Linked DNA regions of Homo sapiens: all the other regions are reported to be linked to region 1. Evidence: microRNA targets listed by miRTarBase, many of them from high-throughput screens and not tested one by one. Region 1 holds a microRNA gene; each other region holds the end of a gene's coding sequence.
Evidence for each region. The annotated mature microRNA hsa-miR-450b-5p reads UUUUGCAAUAUGUUCCUGAAUA and lies in region 1 at 1,958-1,979, shown strand. An mRNA with a match to its seed (bases 2 to 7 or 8) in the 3' UTR can be bound and repressed. Matches are read on the target gene's strand: a 7mer-m8 pairs with bases 2 to 8, a 7mer-A1 pairs with bases 2 to 7 and ends in A, and an 8mer does both.

Region 1 (3,412 bases):
CTGGGGGCTCTTCCTCCAGGCCTCATACTGTGTTCCTTATGTCATTACCTGTTCATCAGAACCGACTATGCAGTAGTGACCAGAGCAGGAAATGGAGGTGAATGTGTTTGGTTACAAAAATTCCCGGTGAAACTGGCTAGTCTTATGATGAGCTTTGGCCTATACATTGGACACTTCCTGGGTGAGGCCCAAGATTGGCCCCAGGATTACTAAATAGTGACTATAAGTTACCCAGCCGTGTACAAGTCAATCTGCACAAACCAAAAAAGCATGATTTAAATTCATTTTAAACCTCTGTCCCATGTTTGTTATTTTCTGTAGATTCAATCAAATTATCTTAAGGAAACAAATGAAGTGTCAAGCTATAGGGGTTGACTTAATCTAGTCACTCACTCAATGGAACCTTTTTCAGCCATTGCAAATAATAATGATAGAGAATATACAGAAACCTGGAAAATGCTTATGATATCAACTTAAAAAAAATCAGGGCCACAAAATCACATGGACACCATGATTGAAAAATAGGAGCAGAACCTGGAGGAAACCTGCAAAACAGACATACTTGTTACTTAAGGGTGGTGGGATTAGAGCTGAAGTTTCTTCTTTCTCTACTTTTTCATGGTTTTGTGTGTGTGTGTGTGTGTGTGTGTGTGTGTGTGTGTGTGTGTGTGTGAGATGCCACGTTTTCTTGTTATGTTGTCAAAATATAATTCTCTAAAAAGTCTTTAGGGGTCATGGGTGATACAGAAATTTGGGATCGGTCAAGGATGCACAGATCTCAGACATCTCGGGGATCATCATGTCACGAGATACCAGTGTGCACTTGTGACAGATTGATAACTGAAAGGTCTGGGAGCCACTCATCTTCATAGCAAAACATGTGGTAAGTATTACAAGACGAATCAATGAAAAGATCAGGAGGAAAGTGGGCCCTAAGCAAAGAAGAAAGGGGTTGCTATGGGATGGGGTGGGAGGATGAGTTGTGTTTTCATAGGAGTGTAATGGGAATGCCTTTATTTGTGTCTTTATTGCTTTAAATGTTTGTTGAATGAATTGAAACTTACATAAGGTATATGATTTTATACTTGTGCTAGAATGCTAAAATAAAGAATTTATGCTCAAGCAAACAACTGGAAAACACTTTGCTATAAGCATTACAGACACAGGGTCATTTTTAGTATGTTGAGTCCACACAAGTGGTCAAGAAAAACCATAAAAACTACATGAACAGAAAGCCCCAGTTAAAAAAAATGCATAAAGATGCTCATTTCAATATTTTAAGGATGGAAGTTAGGAACATCCTGAATGACCAACAACAAAGGATTAGACAAATAAAATACAGCGTAGCTAGCTAGTACAATAGAATAGGATGCTTTCATGTAAAATAATGTTTCTGAAAGTAATTTTCATGTCATGAGAATGTGCTCCTGATAAAACATTTAGCGATTGAAAAAAGGTGCAAAATATTTTCCCATCTCTGCAATATAGGTATATAGGGAGCATTCTGTATGAATAGTTTTGTATCAACATACAGATAAAAGGCTAGGAGGAAACATATAAAAACTTTATTGTGATTATCTCTGAGTTGTGGTATAAAGGTGACCAAAGAAAGATGCTAAACTATTTTTGCGATGTGTTCCTAATATGTAATATAAATGTATTGGGGACATTTTGCATTCATAGTTTTGTATCAATAATATGGGGAAAAGAGGCTATCAGGAAGTATACCAAAAGTCTAGAGGTGGTTATCGCTGACTTGTGTCACTATAGGCAATCAAAAACGATACTAAACTGTTTTTGCGATGTGTTCCTAATATGCACTATAAATATATTGGGAACATTTTGCATGTATAGTTTTGTATCAATATACAGATGAAAAGATGGAGGGAATAAGCAAAAAATCTAACAGCGGCTATCTGTGGTTTACTTCTGTGATAAATGTAAGATGCAGAATTATTTTTGCAATATGTTCCTGAATATGTAATATAAGTGTATTGGGATCATTTTGCATCCATAGTTTTGTATCAACATATGGAGAAAAGTCTAGGAAGAAATATACCAAAACTTGTAACAGTATTATAGTATAAAATTATAGGTAATGTTTGTTTTTCTCTTTATACTTTTATGTATTTTCCAAGTAATATTTGCATAAACAATAAAATGCATTGCTTTTATAGCAATAATAAAACATTTTATTTTTAAAAAGAGTTTGTATTTTTTTTAAAGCATGAACCCCTGACATAAGGGTGGGGGAAGACTTCCTATTTGGCCAGCAGTGGGCCTAGAATACTTTTTCAAACATATCTGGGAAACCTTTGTACAACTTCAGTTGGATCTGCAGTGCAAATGTGTTTTCATTTGCTCTTGGCAAAGAAAAGAGAAAGTATAACTAAAAAATATAACCACGACAGAGTTATAATAGTAATATTAGTAAACAAACTGCTATCTATGTCTAATCAAAGTAACATTTAAAGAAGTATAGAAAGCTGAAACAGGCTCCTTTTCCTCTAGTAGCAATTCAGGAAGGTGGTACTTGGATGCTCGCCCAGGGCCTCAAGACGCATTGGCCAGTTTGAGATATGCCCAAGTCAGGAAAACACCTTATTTAGGTTATTTCCACTCAGCCAACTTCTTGCAGATGCGGGTAAAGCCCCCCCTGCATTTTCCCGCAAATTCAGCTGAGCTCCATAGTAACTCTGGTGTTGCAGAACACATGTGACACCTCAATTTAGGCGATCCTTGTTCTGGTAAGAGATGGAACCATTTGGTCACGTACCTGGCCCATGGTCTGAAGGGCACCTACCAAGGTTTTAGCGTTCCTCAGTGGCACTGATTTGGACAGAGACACATTACAGGAGGATCTAAGTTCCTTCCTATCTTTTTAGTAGCATTTTGGGAAACTGTTCCCCCACCAAGGACATATTTGGCACTCTAGCAAGTCCATATGACTAGACATTACTTTCTTTTTTTTTTTTTTTTTTTTGAGACGGAGTCTGGCTGGCTCTGTCACCCTGGCTGGAGTGCAATGGTGCGATCTCAGCTCACTGCAAGCTCTGCCTCCCAGGTTCAAGCGATTCTCCTGCCTCAGCCTCCCAAGTAGCTGGGATTACAGGTGCCCGCCACCTTGCCTGGCTAATTTTTTTGTATTTTTAGTAGAGACGGGTTTCACTGTGTTAGCCAGGATGGTCTCGATCTCCTGATCTCGTGATCTGCCCACCTTGGCCTCCCAAAGTGCTGGGATTACAGGCGTGAGCCACCGTGCCCGGCCGACATTACTTTCAAAATAGATCCATCATATTCCTTAAAGGAGAAGCTGAGTTGTGAGGCAAATATATATACACATATCCATTTACAAAGATACAGGAGACCATTCCTCCAATTTTCTGATGCCCTGCCCTTGTTCTGCTTAAGA
Region 2 (3,000 bases), not on the chromosome of region 1:
GGAGATTTTTTTTTTTTTTTGGTTGCCTTTTGCAGCTGGAAACAACGTGGAGGTAGATGAGTCTTTGTTCCAAGAAATGGATGACTTGGAGCTGGAGGATGATGAAGATGATCCAGACTATAATCCTGCTGACCCAGAGAGTGACTCAGCTGACTAATGGACTGTCCCCATCTGCAGAGAGGCTTGACTGCCACAGCATCTGTGGCTATGCTCAGAGGGTTATGATTTTCCTTTCTTTTTTTCTAAGAAAAAATTATTTTCAGGAGAATATTCTTCTGATAGCTTTCATCATTGAACTTAATAAACTGACCTTAAAATTTCAAATATAAAATGTTCAAGGCTTCTTACTGTTGAGCACAAGGTTACGTATTTAAAATCACCTAGTATTTGAGAGAGATCCTGCCTATAGCACCAAGACTCGAAGGTAGGCTGCTGCTGTGCACATGAGTTTATACACAGGAAATTGGAATAACTTGGAATTTCTATGCTGGAGACTTTGGCTACTTCTGGATTTCAAGCATTGTATGAAGTGTGAGAAAACTGAGGTGACTAGCACATTAAACCATCCAGATTCTAGCCTCCAGGCACACTAAATTTAAGTCTTGATAAAACCAGGAGGCCATATTATGATCATAAGTAAGATGAAGTTTAGCCTTCCTTTTAGTCCATTTTGTATTGCCGTAAAGGAATATCTGAGGCTGGGTAATTTATAAAAGGTTTGCCGGGTGCGGTGGCTCACGCCTGTAATCCCAGCACTTTGGGAGGCTGAGGCAGGTGGATCACGAGGTCAGGAGATTGAGACCATCCTGGCTAACACGGTGAAACCCCGTCTCTATTAAAAATACAAAAAATTAGCCAGGTGTGGTGGCGAGCACCTGTAGTCCCAACTACTCGGGAGGCTGAGGCAGGACAATGGCGTGAACCCGGGAGGTGGAGCTTGCAGTGAGCCGAGATCACGCCACTGCACTCCAGCCTGGGCAACAGAGCAAGACTCCGTCTCAAAAAAAAAAAAAAGGTTTATTTGGCTCATAATTCTGGATGACCAGAAAGTTGAAGATTGGGTATCTGCATCTGGTGAGAGCCTCACGCTGCTTCCACTCATGGTAGAAGGGGAAGAGGCACTATGTGTGTAGAGATCACATGGCCAGAGAGTGAGGGTGGAAGTGCCAGGCTTTTTTTTTTTTTTTAAACTAGCTTTGGTGGGAACTCCCTCACCCCTGCTCCCCACAGGAAGGCATTAATCTATTTATGAGGGATCTACCTGCTATAACCCAAACACCCCACCAGCCCCCATCTCCCAACACCACCACACTGGGGATTAAATTTCAATGTGGGATTTGGAGAGGACAAATATCCAAACCATAGCAGTCTTAAAGTATTTAAATTAGAATTTAAATTAAAATTTAAATTACAGTATTTAAATTAGAATCATTTGTGGAGTTTCTAAAAGGTATGCATTCCTAGGCCCCTCTCAAGTTAGATTTATGAACACTGATCCCCAGTCTGAATTTTAAAACAGCAAAATCTCATACTGGTTCTACAGATTATTCTGATGCACAATCTGGGTTAAGAACCACTGTCCTGTAGTCGTGAAGTCTATATATTTTGGTATTTTCTTTACCTCTTCTCTAATTAACCAGTCTGAAGGAGTTTGAATTTTGGGGATCGTACATTGTCTGCAAGAGAAACACATTAACATCCGTGCACATAGAGTCCTTTGTAATAATTTGGGATGATTGACTTGGTGGCTCCAGGTAGGAGAGCCAGTCTTCATGCAAGTTATTCAGTCACTACAGTTTTGGAGGACTGACTCTTAACCCCAATAGGAAATCAGTTGTGCTATTTTAAATTCATAAAGCTATTATAAAGAGCTGCCTCCAGTAAAAAATACATATGCCACATACCCACAAACAGCAATATTAAGCCTTCATTTATTGTTGGAGTTAGACCTTATAATCAAAAAGCAAATTATTTAAGATAAAATTACCATTGAGGAGTTTAATACTTTTCAAGGAATCTTCACGTCAGCCTTGATCCCAGACCAATAGAATGGAATAACAACAGGAATGTTCAGCATTTCTTTGCAGAGAGAAATCCAAAAGTTTGTCCTATGTGAGATTTTGCTTTTCCCATCTTTTTGAAGCTGATCAGCAGATACATAAGAACCTGGAAGAAGCTGCTCAATTAAGGTTAAAAAAAATAAAAAGCAATTGTTAGCAATGTGGTGCTGAAATCAAGACTTAACTTTGAAGTGTCAAGAATGATAACCTCCCATCCACTTCATGTGATTTTTAAGAATAAATTTTATATATTTCTCCAGGTATTAAAGTGGATGTCCACCTTTGCCATTTCAGAACCTAAAGGCAGAATCTAATGGTAAAATGAAGACAACCTAGTTGTCTTCTAATAACCTAGTTAGTTCTAATAACATTCTCAAATATTTTCATCTAGAGTAAATATTTACTGTTGGCTTTGTATTCTGGGAATTAGCCCAAGACTATGCTGCTCAAATGGGTGCAAATATACTCTCAGGTTGCAATAGCATGACGAGTGGTATTTGAAGCAATAATTGTTCCATCTTGGATTATCGGTTTTGCTCTTTGATTTGGTAAAGTTTTTGTTTTTCTACTCGTGCCAGTTGTATTAAAATGTCACTAGGTTAAAAACAAACACAGATATGTTTATTCATTACTGTATCCCTGTAATAATGCCTGGCATGCAGTAGGTCCCTAATATTTGTTGAATGAATGAATTATAGAATAGAGTGCAAAATTAATTCTAATGTATTTTAAAGTAAAGCATGAGAGTTCAAAGAAATGTTGTATTTGCCATCTACAACTTGGAATAATGTTCCTTGATCCTGCTTTACTTCATGCACTTTTGCCAGCAGAGGTGGATGCCTTAGGGAAAAAGTTGGATAAATGCTGATCTAAGGCAACACGTCTAAATGGTTATGTGAACATTTCCCAGTTGGGGTAAAACTAAGAGGAGTGATAATAA
Region 3 (3,412 bases), not on the chromosome of region 1:
TGTTTTATGGTTTTAGGTCTCGTCAGCCTATCTCGGCCCCTCTCTTTTCATGTCCTGACAAAAACAAGGTTAATTTCATCCCAACCGGATCAGCTTTCTGTCCTGTAAAACTTCTAGGCCCCCTCTTACCTGCTTCTGACCTTATGCTCAAGAACTCCCCTAACTCTGGCCAGAGCTCAGCTTTGGCAACTCTGACCGTTGAGCAGCTCTCATCCCGGGTTTCCTTTACGTCTCTTTCTGATGACACCAGCACAGCGGGCTCCATGGAGGCCTCTGTCCAGCAGCCATCCCAGCAGCAGCAGCTCCTGCAGGAACTGCAGGGTGAGGACCACATCTCTGCTCAGAACTATGTGATCATCTAAAAAAGGGGGAGCTGGCCTCCACCCTATGTTCCATGGATTCGGAACAAGATTTCAGACATCTGCATGAGTGACAAACTTTCTGAACACCACCACCACCAATAATACTTATCAGCATCATAAAGTATCTCTTAAACACTGATCTTGGCAGGGACGGAACTCCTATTCAGCAGTTTTTGTGGAAAGCAGTAATGCTTGCAAAACGTGTGTGTCATTCAGCATTTTAAGTGGAGACTATGCATTTCATAGTATATTTGACAGATTAGTACTGTGTCCTGTGTTTTGTTCCAGATTCTTCAGTATAAATAAGCTCTATATCAAAAAGTTGCCTGTCTAAATAGAAAATGTCTTGCTGTGTTTTGTCCTATGGAAAATACTGTAATTCAGGATTATGTTTACAATTGATCCAGGTGTTTGTTTCTAACTTCTGTAATACATACAATGCAAAAAAAAAAAAAAAAAAATGGCCACAACAGTTGCACAGTGCCCACCCTATGGCCTAGCTTCAGGTACTTCAGTTGAAGTCTAAACTCAGGTAACTTGGAATGTATATCATATTGGGATATTAAATATTTCACAGCTAAAAAGCTAAAGAGGGAACATCACTCTTTTGCCTTTCCTTATTTTATGCATTTCCCTTTCCTCATTACATTCCACATTCTTAGAATAAGAAGTGCATTCAATCCTAGGAGAATGATAATCCTGGACATGGGTGAACATGAGGAGAACCAGCAAAATCTGTGGTGTTTGACATCACTTTGTCATGTGGTTACAAGTAAAACAACTGTTGCATTCACTGTTTCAACATGTGTACATGTGGCTTTTTTAAAAGTTCAGGTGTTGCTCAGTAAAGGACTGTGACAATGTTGCAAATAAAGTGTTCAGTACTGGACTGTACATAAACATTCCACATTGTGTGTGATGAAATTTAAAGACAAGAATGTCTAGAGTTAATTTCAAAATAAGTGAAGTGTTTGACGGAATGGTTGAGATTTTTTTGTTTATGTTAGCCATCAGGGTCATAACTGTTACCATTTTATCTAAAGACATATTTATATTTAGTTTCTCCCTTGGAAATTCTTTATTTTGCAGGTGAAAAAGTGACATACTTTTTGTTATTGTCTTCCTCAAGCAGTTTAGGTGCATGATCTTCATTTACATAGAATACTTGGGTCTCAGAATTGATGCAACATAAGCAGGTTTTTTTGGTGACTTACAAGAGCAATAGTTTGAAGCTATCTCATTTAAGCCTCTCATAATGCATAATCATGAGTAGTTTTGAAATTTGCAACCTGTGAGGTAGAGCATAAACTCAAGAAAATAGCCTTGAACTTGCAGACTTTTGACACAAGTTCTCCACAAAGTGTGAAGAGAGCCCCAGGCATTCCTGATTGGTCAATGGGAGAGCCTAACTTTCATTGTTTTCTTCAGTACAAAGAGTATCCAAAAGCTAAGTTTTTGTATTCCACTACTTTCAGTTCAATAAAACCTAGAGTTGTTTCATCTGCGCCTAAAGTGTATGGCACAATTTTCTTAAGAATTAGGGGAACCAGGTGCCTACAGTTAAAGGAACGTTTCAGTTCCTTTCATTCATTCCTGGGTTTTTCTTTTATTTTCTAAGAAGGTTGAAGAAGGATGAGTGATAGAGAAGAAAGCAACACCATTGATTTTTTTTTTTAAGAAATGATATATATATGTATATGTTTGTGTGTGTGTGTGTGTGTGTGTGTGTGTGTATTCTGTGCATTATTTTGTCATGATCTCAATTCTCTTCTTTCCACCAAAGTTTGTCGTAATATTTTCTCCTGAAGGTGCATTCTGGCTCCTTTAAATTAGTCAGTGTTATATTGTAGGAGACTGTCATGGAAAAAAGGACTCAGTTTACTTTCGTCATTTTCACAGGGGAACCTTTTAAAACAATCTTTTCAGCAGCAGATACCTTTAACCCTAATAATCTCAGGCCTTGATGAAAATACTATATTTTGTAGATTATGGTTAAAGGGGGAAAATTACTAGTTCCGTAAGATAAATATGAGCTCCATTTGACTTCTGATGTCTGGTTTAGCATTACATAATATGTTGATCTTACACTCTGCTTTTGTCCAAATAAAATGCAATAGTATCAATATCAATTTCAGAAAAATGGACTGAATATGCTTTTTTGGTGATGAAATCTCATGTACGATATTTATAGTGATGTGCTTTTATTTTCTCATGAGATACTAAATATTAATTGTGTTGTACATTTGTTCTTAGCATATATTAAAGTTTTGAACCAAATGTGTTAAAGCTTACGCTTTGCCATGTAAATTTCCCAGAAGTTGTTGAGCTCAAATGTATCCTACATCCAGCTGTAGAAATTTGTCAGAAATTGTTTAAATTTTGTATATAATTGTACTGTTTAATTCTAGCCATTGCGCTGAACAGTATTTGAGTTACCATATAATATGGCTTTACACAAGGAAATGTGTGGCTTTTGTTTTGTATTTTTTCAGTATAGAAGTTCCTGTGTCTTATTTAAATAAAGTTATTAGTAAAACTGAAATAGTTCACACATGTTTTTGGAAAGACTGGGGTTGTTGGCTCGTTACCCGACAGAGAGAAATTCAGCTCAGGTTAATGGTAGTTTTCTGTACTCATTGAGTTCCTGGCCTGCATGTCTGGAGGTGTGGGGTGTCTAACTGGATCAGATTTCTACAACCTGGCTTCCTCTTGGCATTTAACTTACACACTCTCCATCACAAGGTGAGAAGCTAGAGGTCTTAAGTTCCAAGTCTTGGTACTGTTCCCAGGTATGATCACATTAAATAGAGAAAACATTGTTCTCACATCACTTTATACCTCAGAATTTATAGAAATGAGTTTAAATTCAATGAAATCATTTCAGAGGAAGTTGCATATTTCTTGCAAGCAAAGCTGCAGCAATAAAATTTAATTTTTTACTTTTTTATTTGTTTAGATTCAGAATAAGGTGGAGAAAAGCTTTACAAAACAAAGGAGGGTTGACATCATGCCCAGTTATCCAGACATGGATATGGTCTGGTAGGCCATAT
Region 4 (3,000 bases), not on the chromosome of region 1:
CAAGGCGCAGATCCGTCACCAGTCCCTTGACAGTCAGTCTGAAAATGCCACCATCGACCTAAATTCTGTTCTAGAGCGAGAATTCAGTGTCCAGAGTTTAACATCTGTTGTCAGTGAGGAGTGTTTTTATGAAACAGAGAGCCACGGAAAATCATAGTATGATTCAATCCAGATATGGGTTAAATTCCTCATTTTACTTTTAAACTGGTGGTAAAGTGGAAATTGCAAAAAAAAAAAAAAAAAAAAACTGTTCATTCCTGGGTTTTGTGCAGTATACATTTTCCCACAAAATGGTTGTAAAGATTTAAGTTATTTTAATTTATTGTGGATCAGAAACCTAGATGAAACTGGTCAGAATCTGTAAATTACTTAGTTTATATCCACTTTGAGCAGGTATCAAATGATTTAGGATCCTTAAAATTACATTCTAATAATTAAGTTATGTGGAAAAAGTAAGGCTGGGGAAGTCGTGATTAATAGTTTTCAAAGGGCCATTTTTTAAAATCCTCTGGGCATTTTCTTTCAGCTGTTTGTTAGTTTTTGCTTTATTTAAAGCATATTTAAGTTATTTTAATGTGGTTTAGGGGCAAAATGTGCAGATACTTCATTTTTGTAAGATAGATTGTAATAGATGCTGTTTATACTAAACATGTCATAACTATCTATACAGTATATATTAAAAGAAAGCTTGTACTGTATCTTATTTGATGATATTTATTTTCTCTGCCAAGCTGTATAGTAAAAGGAAAATAAGTCACATCTGGTCATTGGCATTTGTATCGTCATTCTGTAAAGACAAAAGAGTACCTATATAAGAAGCTCCACGTAGTGCAAATCGACATCTGGTAGGCTGCTCGCCCCCAGGCAGCAGCTAGAGTCTGTAATTCTCTGCGTCATCCTCTTCTTTTTCTTCATTTTTGCTTTTTCTTCGCTTGAGTTCTTCTCTGAAATTATATGCAAAGAGTTGTGGGTCTTCATCACACATTTTTCTGTATACATCACAGAGGCTCTTAAAGTGTGAGATGGAGAGCTGGCGGGGCCGAAGAGTAGGGTCTATGTCTGCCAACTCTAACAGCCTGCCCGTGCTTTCCAAGCGCTGCGCTTCAGGGAATAACATTCTGAGGGGAAGACAGACAGACAGAAAAATAAGAATTTTACTTAAATTCTGCAAATCATGACACTTTTTAACCCTCATTTGAAAACAACACAACACAGTTGCTGGCTACTGACAGCTGGAGAGAGTGGCAGGAGCCTCTTGGATTATATAGCACCAGATAAGAGGCACGGCCCGCCACTGAGGCAGCTCTAACCTGAGGCGCGAGGCAAGCACACAATGGGAAAGCATTCTCCAAAGCTAAATCAGTACATGTACTTTTTAAAGGTAAGTAAGTAAGTTTAAAGTAACATCTGCTCAGCTGCATTCTTGTAGAAACATAAGCTTGATGTGCCTCATGTTTCAATGTGAAAGTTGTATTATTTCTTGTGTGACAAATCATCAGTTTTGATTCTCTAGAATTTGAATGTATCAGCCTTTAGAACTCTTCACGCTAAAAGAGTTACTTTTTTTTGCTAAAAGTTTGAAAATAGCTGATAGGAAAATATAATTATTCCTCTTGTTATTTTTCAAGCATCTTTAAAACTGATTTGAAGTAGAGGATATATTTTAAATTTCATCTATCCAAATTGAACCATTGTTTTAAAATGAATAGCAGAACTGCTTGAAATGCTGCGGAGTTAGGCCTGGATTGCATTTTTCTTCAAGTCTCAGGGCTCTTACAGAGCTCATCCCAAGGGGCTTGGAAGGTGTCATGGCCAGGGGAGATAGATAGCATGTTGCTTATAGGCTGATGGTCCTTTCAACAAGGAATTGCATGTCCCCCACACTTTCAGGGTGAGGTGACAGATCTTTGAGTTCAGTTTCATGGCAAAGAGGGCCTGATGATGGCAGTTTCTAATATCTGAAGAACACCAATAAGTCAAAGTCCTTTGACCTGTTACCCTGGGTGGCACAGTATCTGGTCCATGTCTGTCCTGAGGATGGTGTATCTGAAATGAATAGGGCCCTTCACTTAGCTGGGGGGTTGCCTTGGAAACGCTAGTGCCAGCTCTAGGCTCAGACCAATTCCAGGATTTCCAAAAGCACATAAAAGGACATAGTTTTGTGCTCCCTCCTCCCCCATGAATCAGGGCTATCAGGTACAGCTGTGTGGGTCCTGCTCTGCGTGAGGGGTAAGTGTGAGCCAAAATCCAGCTTCTGTTTCACTCACCAGCAGTGCACAGTAGCTGGGGGCTGCAGCCAAAATGGCTGGCCAGTGGCATCTCTGTCACCAGCTCTGCACCTTAAGTCTCTGCTAGAGAAGCAGGAACTATCTGGTAAGGTGGGAATTCTGGCTTAATTAGAGGCAACAAGTGGCAGGCTGAGGCTCCAGCTTCTGCCATCTGGCATCCTCAGCAATGGGCTTTGTGGACTGCAGCACTCTTAGGAGCTGATGCCCAGCTGGCCCCTAAAATAATCTGCTGTCATTTCATATGCTAAAGGGACACTTCGGACCTTGTGAAAGAGAGAATTACAATGAAGCCATGTGAGGAGGTTTTAGAAAATGAGAAATATGTGCCTCTCACGCCGAGCCTCTTTAAACAGCGGACTATGGATAGATTATCGTAGATGGAAATCTTTTACAAATACACTTTCCTGCCTTCTTAAGCAGACTATCACTGGGCTTAACTAAACAGCTTCTTGGCTCTTTCTGGATCTGCAACAAGGCTGTGGTCCTTCAGAGCCCATCGAGGTGGGCGACCTCTAGACCACCAGGCCCTGTCAGGTTTTCCCAGTGATTCCTGAGAGCCTCTTGGCAGCAGCAGCTTTCTGTGAGATGGAAACGTGCTTACGTGAGGACTTCGTGATATGATTTTGGCTGCTCAGAAGTCATATTTGCTTCCTAGTTCTCAAGTGTGTCCTTAAAGAAGAGATAGGGCAACTCGGTAGAAAGCAAGCATTTA
Region 5 (3,412 bases), not on the chromosome of region 1:
GGTGGATTAAATGCATTTTTCAACTTACGATATTTTCAACTTACAATGGGTTTATGGGAATGTAACCCCATCGTAAGTCAAGGAGCATCTTTTCTGCTAGGGTATTTATAATAACCACCAAATCCTGGCCCAAAGCTCGAGAAAATTCATCTCCCTTGTTTATTCAAGTCTCCCTGGTCATTCCCAGGGCAGTAGCTGGTACATATGGGCCCTCATTAAATACCTGCTGGATTGCTGAATGGTTAGATGATTGGATGGACAGATCTTGGATTCAGAGAAAAATATGCTCCTGTCATCAGCTTTTTTAGCCAAAGCAAGTCCAAGGAACTTTCTGGTAAGCGCCCAGCTACCCTTCACTAACACTCCTCCCTCTCCTTCTCTTCAGCATCCAGCGTCGGCTGTCCCTCCAGCTCCCCATCCTCCACCACGCCTACCTCCCATCCATCGGAGGCGTGGACGCCAGCTGTGTCAGCCCCTGCGTCAGCCCCACCGCCAGCCCCCGCCACAGACATGTGCCACCCTCCTTCCGAGTCATGGTCTCGGGCCTGTAAGGGTGGGAGGCCTGGGCCCGGGGCCTCCCCCGTGACAGAACCACACTGGGCAGAGGGGTCTGCTGCAGAAACACTGTCGGCTCTGGCTGCGGAGAAGCTGGGCACCATGGCTGGCCTCTCAGGACCACTCGGATGGCACTCAGGTGGACAGGACGGGGCAGGGGGAGACTTGGCACCTGACCTCGAGCCTTATTTGTGAAGTCCTTATTTCTTCACAAAGAAGAGGAACGGAAATGGGACGTCTTCCTTAACATCTGCAAACAAGGAGGCGCTGGGATATCAAACTTGCAAAAAAAAAAAAAAAAAAAAAAAAACAAAAAAACTAGACAAGGAGAGAGGCACTAGAACTCCAGCTGGAAGTCACGGAGTGGCTCGAGCAGCCTTGGGAAGAGGCAAGGAGCTTCTGAAGAAACTGCCTCTGCACACACATCACTGGCTGTGACCCCTCAGGCTAGCCCTTCTCCACTCTGGGGGAGGAGGTGGGAAGGGCCACCAGGCCCCCAGCTGCCAGGCCAGCTGACCCCAGCCTTCCTGGAACAGGGAGTCTGCAGGAGCGCAGACAGGCACAGCCCTGGAGCAGGCAGGCCGAGGGCTGCGGCACTGGAGCAGGCTGACTTACATGCTCCACATGGGACCTGTGTCACCCAATGAGATGTTTGTTACTCTGGTAAATGCCACACGTTAACACAATAACACCCATTCCTGGGACCGTGGGGATTTAGGGCACGTCACTGCAGACACGCTCTGCAGCATTCACCGACAGTCTGTCATGCACCCACCACGTTGGCCATGTCCTTGTGTTCCTATCGGATGCTCCCAGTAACCAGGGGGACCACCCGAGCTAATCATGGAATGTCTGTTCCCAGCAAACACGATAAAGAAAGATTGTGCACTTTAACCTCTCTCATCAGGGCCCAAGGGCTGGCTGGGATTTTTTTTTTTTTTTTCCCACTAACTTTGTTTCTGACCAAAGTGAATTGGAGGCACTCTGCTAAAAGACATCCCCGTAGACATAGGGGAGAGAGTTGCTGGCTGAGGGCTTCCCTTGGCTTCCAGAAGGCAGCCTTCCATCCAGACAAGCCAGTGAGCTCTCCCCTTGGGATCACTGGGGTGATCAGTCAGCAGATTGATTCTCATTCATAAGATCATTCCTCCCTTTAAATTGAGCCCCTAAGAGCACTGGCCTGGGAGTCAGACAGACCTGGGTTCAAGTCCTCAGTCCCCTGCCCACTCCCTACGTGACTTTGATCAGGTCACTAGTGTCTCTCTGAGCCTCAGTTTCCCCTCTGTAACTTGGGGTTGAACTAAAACACCTGTCCTGCCTACCTCACAAGGTCACTCTGAGGATTGAAACTTGATCTTGTCCAGGAAAGCTTTGTACCAAACAGTGAAGCCGCCCTGATCCGTGAGGTATGAGTATGACTCTGACCTTCAGCCCTCCCTACAGCCGGGGGTGTGGCCCAGAGAAGCTTCCAGCACAGCCCTCTACCCAGAACATCCGGGCTGGAGGGAGGCTCCCAGTGACTTTTCTGACATTCCTAGACAGGTTCATTCTTTGCTCAAGAAAGGCCTGAATGACAATGTCCAGGATGTCTGCACAACTGAGCAGCTCGCTCACTCCCTAAAGAAACCTATTGGCAGCTTCAACAGGCAGGCAATAATCTCTTCCCAGAACCACTGCAGTCAGGAATAAACTGTTTTCTCCACCAGGCTTTGACAAAAGGGCCCACAGGAATCTTACCAATGCCAACATTTCAAAGCACCCTATTTCACGTAGCATAGCTTTCTGCTCCCCTTCCCCAAAGAGAGGTTATGGAGGTACTGTAGCTTTTAGGGAAAAAAAAATGTTAACACATCACAGGTCAAGTTGAAGTCATTCTCTGTTTAGGCACTAAAAATCGGTGTTGTCACTCACTGTGTATTACCAGTATTTACTTGCTTTCTTGATTTCACCAAAACCAAATTTAATTTAAAGGACCACATTAATTTTTCAAAGGGAAAGAGACAATTAATTGTACATAATGTATACACACACACAAAAAAAAATACCTGTAGAAATATTATTCCAGCATAGCAGGAAAACAAACAAAAGTATTGGACTGTCGGAGGTGAGCCTGTGCGTCTGTAACCCTTTGTGACTCCTGAGCGTGCGCTGTCTTCTAGGTTAACTCACGAAGTACATTCTCTGTCTTACTGATACTGTAGGTTCACCCATTTTTTTTTAATTTCCTCGCAAATAACAAGACCCACAGAAGTGACTCTAGCTACTTAATGGTTCTGTTCTTTTATATGCAGCAAACACACCGTCCATTTCTGAAGAGGCTTCGGCCTGAAGGCATTTTCCAATGATGTTAGTGCACAAAACGCTTTAAATTAGACTGGAACTGCCAGAATCAAATGTAAATGAGGAATTTCTCGTACCCCTACTGCATGGTATCGATTTTTAATAAATTGTTGCAAATTTGTTTTTATGAATAAAAGGAAAAAACCTGTCGTCTTTAATGCCTACTCATCCCAAAATGCAGGTCAGATCGGGCCATATTCCTCCGCTTAGAAACTCAGGGGACAATTCTGGGGTTGCCTGCTCAGCATTGTCCCTTCCTTCATAAACTGCCCATCCCAGCCTCCTGCTGACAGCGGCAAAGCAGCCCTGTTACCAGGTGACCCCAACTTCTGGCCACAGCTGATTAATTCGAGGGTGGGAATTTGACCTAGGCTGGGCCGGTAAATCACTTCCTCAGGATTCCTCCATGTAGAGAAATTTAGTCTGCGATGAAACAGAAAAAAAAAAAAATGGAGCCAACAGAGAGACAATCAGGACCAACAGCTGAGTTCTGATGGTGTCTGAGTACCTGGTTAGC
Region 6 (3,412 bases), not on the chromosome of region 1:
GTTGCTGTATTGTTTGCCAATATTTTATTTTGCATTTTGCATCTGTTGAGAATAAAATCCTTCTAAAAATGTCTTTTAGTACTGAGAACATGTCTGCCTCAAAAGACAATTTGAAGCATACTGTCCTTCATGATACATGGATAGACATTATTTAAACATTTGAAAAAGTTCACCAGTAAGTCCATTAGGGTCAAAGTCCAACCTGTCAGAAAATTATACTGGGTTACAATATCCCCTAAATTTTTAAATGCTTTTTATTGGTATAACTTCTCATTTCCCACTTATTTTGTATTAAGAAATATATTCATTTTCTTCATTTCTAAATCAACCTTTATTTTCGACTAATTTTTCCTATTTCCATTATATTCGGCTATACCATCTTTTGCAACTTCTGATTGTTCCTTTTCTCAATTTCTTATGAATAATCTGTGATACTGAAAATCTTTTCGGTAGATCTGGAATACCTTCACCTTCATTTTATTTATCATCTTATGTATTTCTCATTTTAATTACTATTTTATAGGTCTATTTCAAGTATTTCAGTTGTTCTGTTAGATTTAAACTTTAGGATAAAGTTTAAATATGACTTTTACTATATTTTTAAAAGTCAATACAATCCATGACTTTGCTACTTTAAGTAAGTTGTCAATTACTTAAATCTGTCTAGTCTCATTTTCCTCACATATAGAGGAGCAAAAATTAGTGTATTCCGAACAAATTTTGGCCTGATAATATTTTTTGTAACACAATCTTCAGATCATGAGATGTGTTACTGAAGAACATTTTGTTAAAATTTAGCCAAATTCTGCTTCGAGATCCATGCTCTAAAATATGTTTGTTTAGTTCATCTTATCTTCACATTTCTCTGATTCAATAAGCTGCAGGACCAGTGTGTGCTTTTTACCCCCGGCAATGCTAGACTAATTTTCGTGGGCACTTTCTCTTTCTCCTGCAGCGCCTACACTCTCTAACAGTGAATGTTAGTAGAAAGATCAAAGGTTTTAGAATCACAAAAGGCTGGGTCCCCATGTTGGCTCTTCCACATACCAGATTCTGAGCAAATTACTAATAATTCTCTTATTTCTTCTTTGAAGGTGATATGGTTTGGCTGTGTTCCCACTCAAATCTCATCTTGAATTGTAGCTCCTATAATTCCCACGTGTTGTGGGAGGAACCTGGTGGGAGATAACTGAATCATGGAGTTGTTTCCCCCATACTGTTCTCATGGTAGTAAATAAGTCTCACGATATCTGATGGTTTTAAAAGGGTTTCCCTTTTCACTTAGTTCTCATTCTCTCTTGTCCACCGCCATGTAAGACGTGCCTTTCACCTTCCACCATGATTGTGAGGCCTCCCCAGCCACATGGAACTGTGAGTCCATTAAACCTTTTTCTTTACAAATTACCATCTCAGGTGTGTCTTTATCAACAGCATGAGAACACACTAATACAGAGGGTACATGCGAATTTGCCTCACAGGATTGTTGAGAAACTGTCATGAGAAAGCATAATACTAGGTACCAAACACATGATAAATACTATTTCAGAGCAAAAACTGTCACAGGGATCATCATACTCTGACTGAAGAATGGAAACTGGACTAGAGGAAAAGCAAGTTCATGTCTTCTGACAGCTCCACAGGTTTTCACCATTAGAGTACTACCAGTTTTATGACGTTGGGTGGCTCTGGGAGAAAAAAAGTTTCTATACTCTGGATAACAGCTAAGAGGCAAGAGAGATTACAGAAAATTGTTACTTCACAATTTGTTAAGTGGGACACAACCGAAAGGGCATGGTAAATCCTCCTTTGATTCATTCCTATCAGTTATGTTATAGTGATATTAATTAAAGTGGTAGAGCCAACAAGGTGGTATGTTTCATTCTCACTGAAAAACCTTGGGTAATCTATTTATAGAGGGTTTTATAAGTATCTGTAATCTCAGGTTAAAAAGGCCTCACTCTGTTTCTCCTTAGGAATTCCTAAGAATTCCTCCTTAGGAATTTCAGAACAGCCCTTCTGAAGTATCTTCTCCTGGGGCACTTCATTTTTCCTTTTGGTCTAAGTTACTTATTGGAAGCTATTTTAAGTGCCAGGGCAGGGCTCTGCAGAAATTTTCTGAAGTATTAAATAAGAATAAATCTTATCTTTCAAATTTCCTTTGCAATCAACCTCCCCAAAATGAGCTTTACAACCACTAATTGAACTCCAATTCTTTTTGTAAATTAGAATACTGTGGTGGCATCATTGCCTCATCAGTTACAAGGGTCAAGTGAGTATTATAAACTTCAGACCTTCACAGTGCATAAAGGATCATGCAAAGCTAATCTTTAAACGATTATAGACAAATGTATTTTATTATCATATTGGCATTTGTATTAGTTGCTATTCCTACCACCATGTCTATACATTTATATTATATGCAAAAGATCCACATAATTTACCATTTGTGTATGTTTCACTATTCGAACAGGCCGCAGCAACTGTAACAGCTGCAAAAGTAATTAAAATATTACTTGGGTATTACTAATTGTTCTGTAGACAAAGATAAAATCTGAAGATCATTAGCAAATACATTACCTTTAAGCTGAGTTGCTAATATGGAACCCTTACATATATACCCAATACTAAAATAAAGCTAACTCTGTTTTAAGATTCTGGGTCATATAGCCCATTCTAAACAAAATGTTCAATAATCAATAAATCACTCATTGATAGGTTAACAAAGATATTCAATGCTGAATGTCTGAGAGTTAAAGACAACATCTGCATAGCATTCATCATATATAACCACTTCTAATTACTCATATGGGAAACTGTCCTTTAAATGAGAAAATTCTGATGCCATGAAGGAGGTCCAAAACAGCATTTCGAGATTGCTCTTTTCTAATTTTGAAGGTGCTTCTCTGGGCTTTCTAGGTTTTTGCTTTCCTCAGAGGATTCTAGTTTGGCCATTACTACATTATTGGTTCCAGGAGCCTCTGGCTGCTTATCATCACCATCAAAGATAATGTCTTCTGGATTTGGAGGTGGAGGGCAGAATTCTTCAGTTGGAAAGATCTCCTGGAAAAGTGTTTCAGCTTGCTTGACAGCATGCTCATTTCCCAGGCCACAGTCAGGCCCAGAGCAGACATAAACATTGGAAGGCAAGCCATTATACGAGCTTCTGCTGATTCCCGAGGAATCTCTCATATTAAAATAAAGAGCCCACAAGAGTCTTGGCTTTGTAAGTTCTTCCTCGTTTATTTCTGTTTCAGTATACGGAGTGAATAATTTCTTCACCACTGATTCTAAGTCTTCTCTTGCTGTTTTAGAAGATGAACATGTCAAATGTACCAGATAGGTGTCCTTCATGCATGTCATGGTTGAAGAACATAATTCTGTGACCCGTACAGCACAAGCTCCTGGCTCTGCT
Region 7 (3,332 bases), not on the chromosome of region 1:
AATCCCAATGCCCAGGTCTAGTAAGACCATTTCAATCAGAACCTCTGGGGTCAGACCCTGTCACTGGTCTTTTAAAAAAGCTTCCCAGGGGGCTGGGCGTGGTGGCTCACACTTGTAATCCCAGCACTCTGGGAGGCCGAGGCAGGCAATCACCTGAGGTCAGGAGTTCAAGACCAGCCTGGCCAACATGGTGAAACCCCGTCTCTACTAAAAATACAAAAAAAATTAGCTGGGCCTGGTGGCTCACGCCTGTAGACCCAGCTCCTCGGGAGGCTAAAGCATGAGAATTGCTTGAACCCGGGAGGTGGAGGTTGCAGTGAGTTGAGATCATGCAACTGCACTCCAGCCTGGGAAACAGAGTGAGACTGGGTCTCAAATAAATAAATATAAATAAAAATAAATAAAAAGCTTCCCAAGGGATTGTAATGCGAGGATTGAGAACCACTAGACTAGATCTTCAAAGCAACAGGCAAGCTGAGTGACCAATGGGGTGGTCTATAAAAGGGGAGACACTCTCCTTCCATTCTTTTGACCTCTGACCTCTGCTTCTGGTCCCGGCCCCTCTGCCCACTCCTCTGGTCCCTAAGACCAAATTTAAGATATTGGAGCACCCAGGTCCCTGGCTAAACGCCACAGCCCTTTTCCTCACTTCTGGCCAGGAATAGTGCATCGCATTCTTCATGGGTGGGAGAGACCTTCAGCTCCAGTGAGAGACAAATGTAAAAGAATCAACAAAATGCAAATGAAATTAAATAAACTTGTTTTAATCATTAGCAGAACAAGAGCAAGCAGTAAGTGTTGATCACCCCATTTGTGGAGTGAGGGGTGGAGGGAGTATTTATAAATGCTTTGAAAAAAAGTTTCTCCTCTTAGCGGTAAGGTCCTGGATCACTTACTCCCAGCAGCATCCGAGGCTCCCGAGAGCCATTTCTGTGCTGTCTCATTCCAGGAATGTGTGTGGAGCACCTGCTCTGAACCGGCACTGTGCTGGGTACTTGCTGGGAATACGAGATGACCCCAGCTTTCTAGGAGCTAATTGGCTGATGAGCCGAGGCAGGGACATTTGCAGAAAGGAGAAAAATAGAAAGACATAGATTTTCATGACTGAGCTATGGATAATCTGGACACCAAAAAATAAACCTTTGCTTCATTACTTGCCTGATGCCTTTGCCTCCATCCCCATCCTAAAACCAGGGCTGGACTATGGGGTGACACAAGTGGGGATCCCATTTCAAGTGCAAAATTTAAGGGGGCCCCAAAAGTCCCCATAGTCAATATAAATAACATTTTAATGCAATTGTCTAAAAATAAAAATTCACATTAAAAGTCCCTCATAGACAACATTTGAAAGTCAGGACCAGAGCCTGCACTTGCAAGAGCTGGCCTCTCCTGCCTCACCCTTATCCTGCCCCTGGCTCCAATCAAATTTCATTTCTATAAATGGCTCATGGGCTGTAGTTTGTTAATTTGTTTTTTTAGAATATTGCATTAAAATATGATTTATTTTGATCATTTACTTTGAGCTTTTTAGAGATGAGTGCCTTGATTATTTCACCCTAGTCCCAGCCCTGTGGCAAAGTATCCTTGAAAACAGAGATGCCAGTAAAAGACAAGATGCATGATTGAATTCCAATCTCAGATTAAATATGCCCATGGGATATACTTATACAAGAAGACTATTTGTCTGAAATTCAAATTTAATTGAGTACCTTGTTTTTGTTTGCTAAATATGGCAGCCCTGCTTGAGGAGTATCAAACTGACTCCCCCGAAGACAAGGTGGTATTTAGTCCCATAGCAACATACCCCACCCACGTACACATGCATTTTACATACCATGAAAGTGACACTCCTGTGCATTAACACACTGTTTCCAAAGGATGTCCATCCCTTGATCTTCCTACAGCCTCTTGCCCTATACTTTCAGTCATTGAGCCTGACCCCAACTGCCTGGGCCCTCCTCAGCCTCCATGGGTCACAGTAGGCAGGAAAGATCCCACAGGCTGGTGGATGCAAAGTCTTGGATCTCTCAGAGCCACCCTGGGCATGTCCAGATCCAGCCAAACTCCTATTGCTTTACCTGGGCCCTCCTGCTTTCAGTATTTATTCCCACTGGGCAAATTGAATTCTGATCAGCAGGGACTCTGGCCATGGAGAGTTATAGGTCAACTTCCTGGGACAACAGGTGTGACAATCAATGCATCAATGGCAAACCAAAAATGGTGGGGACATTCCTTGCCCCAAGAGAATGGTAGTGTAAATCAGGCTGGTAGAAGCCAAACTCAGAAAGGTAGATAGAGCCAGAAAGGAGAGGAACAGACCAAAGACGACATTCAGAGGGTCCCCAGGCACTGGGGCCAATCCTCAAAGGGAGGATCAAGCAGAACTCCTGCTGTGCAGGGACAGAGAACTGAGGCAAAGAGAGAGAGAGGCAAGACTTGATAGGAGAGGAAGAGCAGAGAGGAGTGGCACTCTGGTGGGTGGAGTTACATACTCTCCAAGGAGGGCAGGCACACCCCAGCTGACCTGGGAGAGCAGACTGTCTCTTGCAGCATCCTGCCATGGCCACATGGGGGCGCTTCTAGCTCCCTCTCACCCTGCCCAGTGTTCTCCAAGGGTGGGCTTGCAGCAGAATTACCTGGGATGCTTATTAAACAGCTCCAATTCCTGGCCATGGTCCCAGACTCACTGTCTTAGAATCTTAGCCACAAGTCTAGGATTCTGCATTTTAAAAGCTTCCTAGGAGGTTTTCACGCACCCTAAACCCAACCTCAGATGGAAAGCATGCACCCCAAGGGATAAAGGAAGAGATATTGGCTGGCTTCTCTATAACAGGAGACCTCTCTTCATGGTGGGACTTCATTGGCTTGAATTTAGAGCCAGGCCCTAGGGTCTGGTGGGCATTGTGGAAAACACACTGGTGGGGGTTATTAGGATGAGAAGAGCAGGCAGAGGCTGTGAGCATGACACACAGCCTCTTTCATACAGAGCTTGAAGAACCTTGTGATAGCTTTCATATCAAAGTGGCATGGTGAATGGAACGAGAATGATTCCGTGCCCAGCAACGTGTGTCCTGCTTTGCTTCCTCTTCCTGGGCCCCCTCAAGAGTCCCTGGGAGCAGAGCCAGGGTGGTGGAACTCCACCCTAGATCTCACTCTCTTCCAGAATCTCCTCCATGGTGTTGGCCATGGTGACATCCCCCTCACTGCACTCGGACAGGCTGCTGCCCCGGGGCCAGCGTGCATGGTCCTGTTGGGGCTGGGCGCCCAGCTCCCCAAGACCTCGCATGGCTAGATGTAGGAGCCGCCCACTGTTAAGTGAGGGCTGCAGCTTC

Region 2: the mRNA of RWDD1 is a reported target of hsa-miR-450b-5p. Seed matches in the 3' UTR shown: 7mer-A1 at 2,766-2,772.
Region 3: miRTarBase lists GLCCI1 as a target of hsa-miR-450b-5p. Seed matches in the 3' UTR shown: 8mer at 555-562, 7mer-A1 at 802-808 and 7mer-m8 at 1,226-1,232.
Region 4: miRTarBase lists TIAM2 as a target of hsa-miR-450b-5p. Seed matches in the 3' UTR shown: 8mer at 223-230.
Region 5: miRTarBase lists GABBR2 as a target of hsa-miR-450b-5p. Seed matches in the 3' UTR shown: 8mer at 837-844 and 7mer-m8 at 3,006-3,012.
Region 6: the mRNA of CHML is a reported target of hsa-miR-450b-5p. Seed matches in the 3' UTR shown: 7mer-m8 at 2,158-2,164, 8mer at 381-388, 7mer-A1 at 35-41 and 7mer-A1 at 28-34.
Region 7: the mRNA of GLP2R is a reported target of hsa-miR-450b-5p. The part of its 3' UTR that is shown has no 7-base or 8-base seed match.

The regions. Positions count from the first base shown.
Region 1 is chrX:134,538,798-134,542,209 of GRCh38, reverse strand. It overlaps MIR450B (microRNA 450b), which reads left to right and starts at 1,948; the gene lies at 1,948-2,025. It overlaps MIR450A1 (microRNA 450a-1), which reads left to right and starts at 1,779; the gene lies at 1,779-1,869. MIR450A2 (microRNA 450a-2) reads left to right here and starts at 1,603; the gene lies at 1,603-1,702. It overlaps MIR542 (microRNA 542), which reads left to right and starts at 773; the gene lies at 773-869.
Region 2 is chr6:116,592,945-116,595,944 of GRCh38, forward strand. RWDD1 (RWD domain containing 1) reads left to right here. Exons shown (of 7, transcript NM_015952.4): 7 at 36-3,000. The coding sequence ends at 157. Among named protein-coding and RNA genes, the nearest start is that of RSPH4A, 22 kb to the right of the region's middle.
Region 3 is chr7:8,086,177-8,089,588 of GRCh38, forward strand. GLCCI1 (glucocorticoid induced 1) reads left to right here. Exons shown (of 8, transcript NM_138426.4): 8 at 17-2,904. The coding sequence ends at 362. Among named protein-coding and RNA genes, the nearest start is that of GLCCI1, 120 kb to the left of the region's middle.
Region 4 is chr6:155,256,965-155,259,964 of GRCh38, forward strand. TIAM2 (TIAM Rac1 associated GEF 2) reads left to right here. Exons shown (of 27, transcript NM_012454.4): 27 at 1-759. The coding sequence ends at 157. It overlaps TFB1M (transcription factor B1, mitochondrial), which reads right to left. Exons shown (of 7, transcript NM_016020.4): 7 at 1-1,118. The coding sequence ends at 872. Among named protein-coding and RNA genes, the nearest start is that of CLDN20, 5.5 kb to the right of the region's middle.
Region 5 is chr9:98,287,723-98,291,134 of GRCh38, reverse strand. It overlaps GABBR2 (gamma-aminobutyric acid type B receptor subunit 2), which reads left to right. Exons shown (of 19, transcript NM_005458.8): 19 at 386-3,026. The coding sequence ends at 551. Among named protein-coding and RNA genes, the nearest start is that of TBC1D2, 34 kb to the right of the region's middle.
Region 6 is chr1:241,630,913-241,634,324 of GRCh38, forward strand. CHML (CHM like Rab escort protein) reads right to left here. Exons shown (of 2, transcript NM_001381853.1): 2 at 1-3,412. The coding sequence ends at 2,884. The region is part of intron 1 of OPN3 (opsin 3); the gene reads right to left. Among named protein-coding and RNA genes, the nearest start is that of CHML, 7.8 kb to the right of the region's middle.
Region 7 is chr17:9,889,516-9,892,847 of GRCh38, reverse strand. GLP2R (glucagon like peptide 2 receptor) reads right to left here. Exons shown (of 13, transcript NM_004246.3): 13 at 749-3,332. The coding sequence ends at 3,143. Among named protein-coding and RNA genes, the nearest start is that of RCVRN, 14 kb to the left of the region's middle.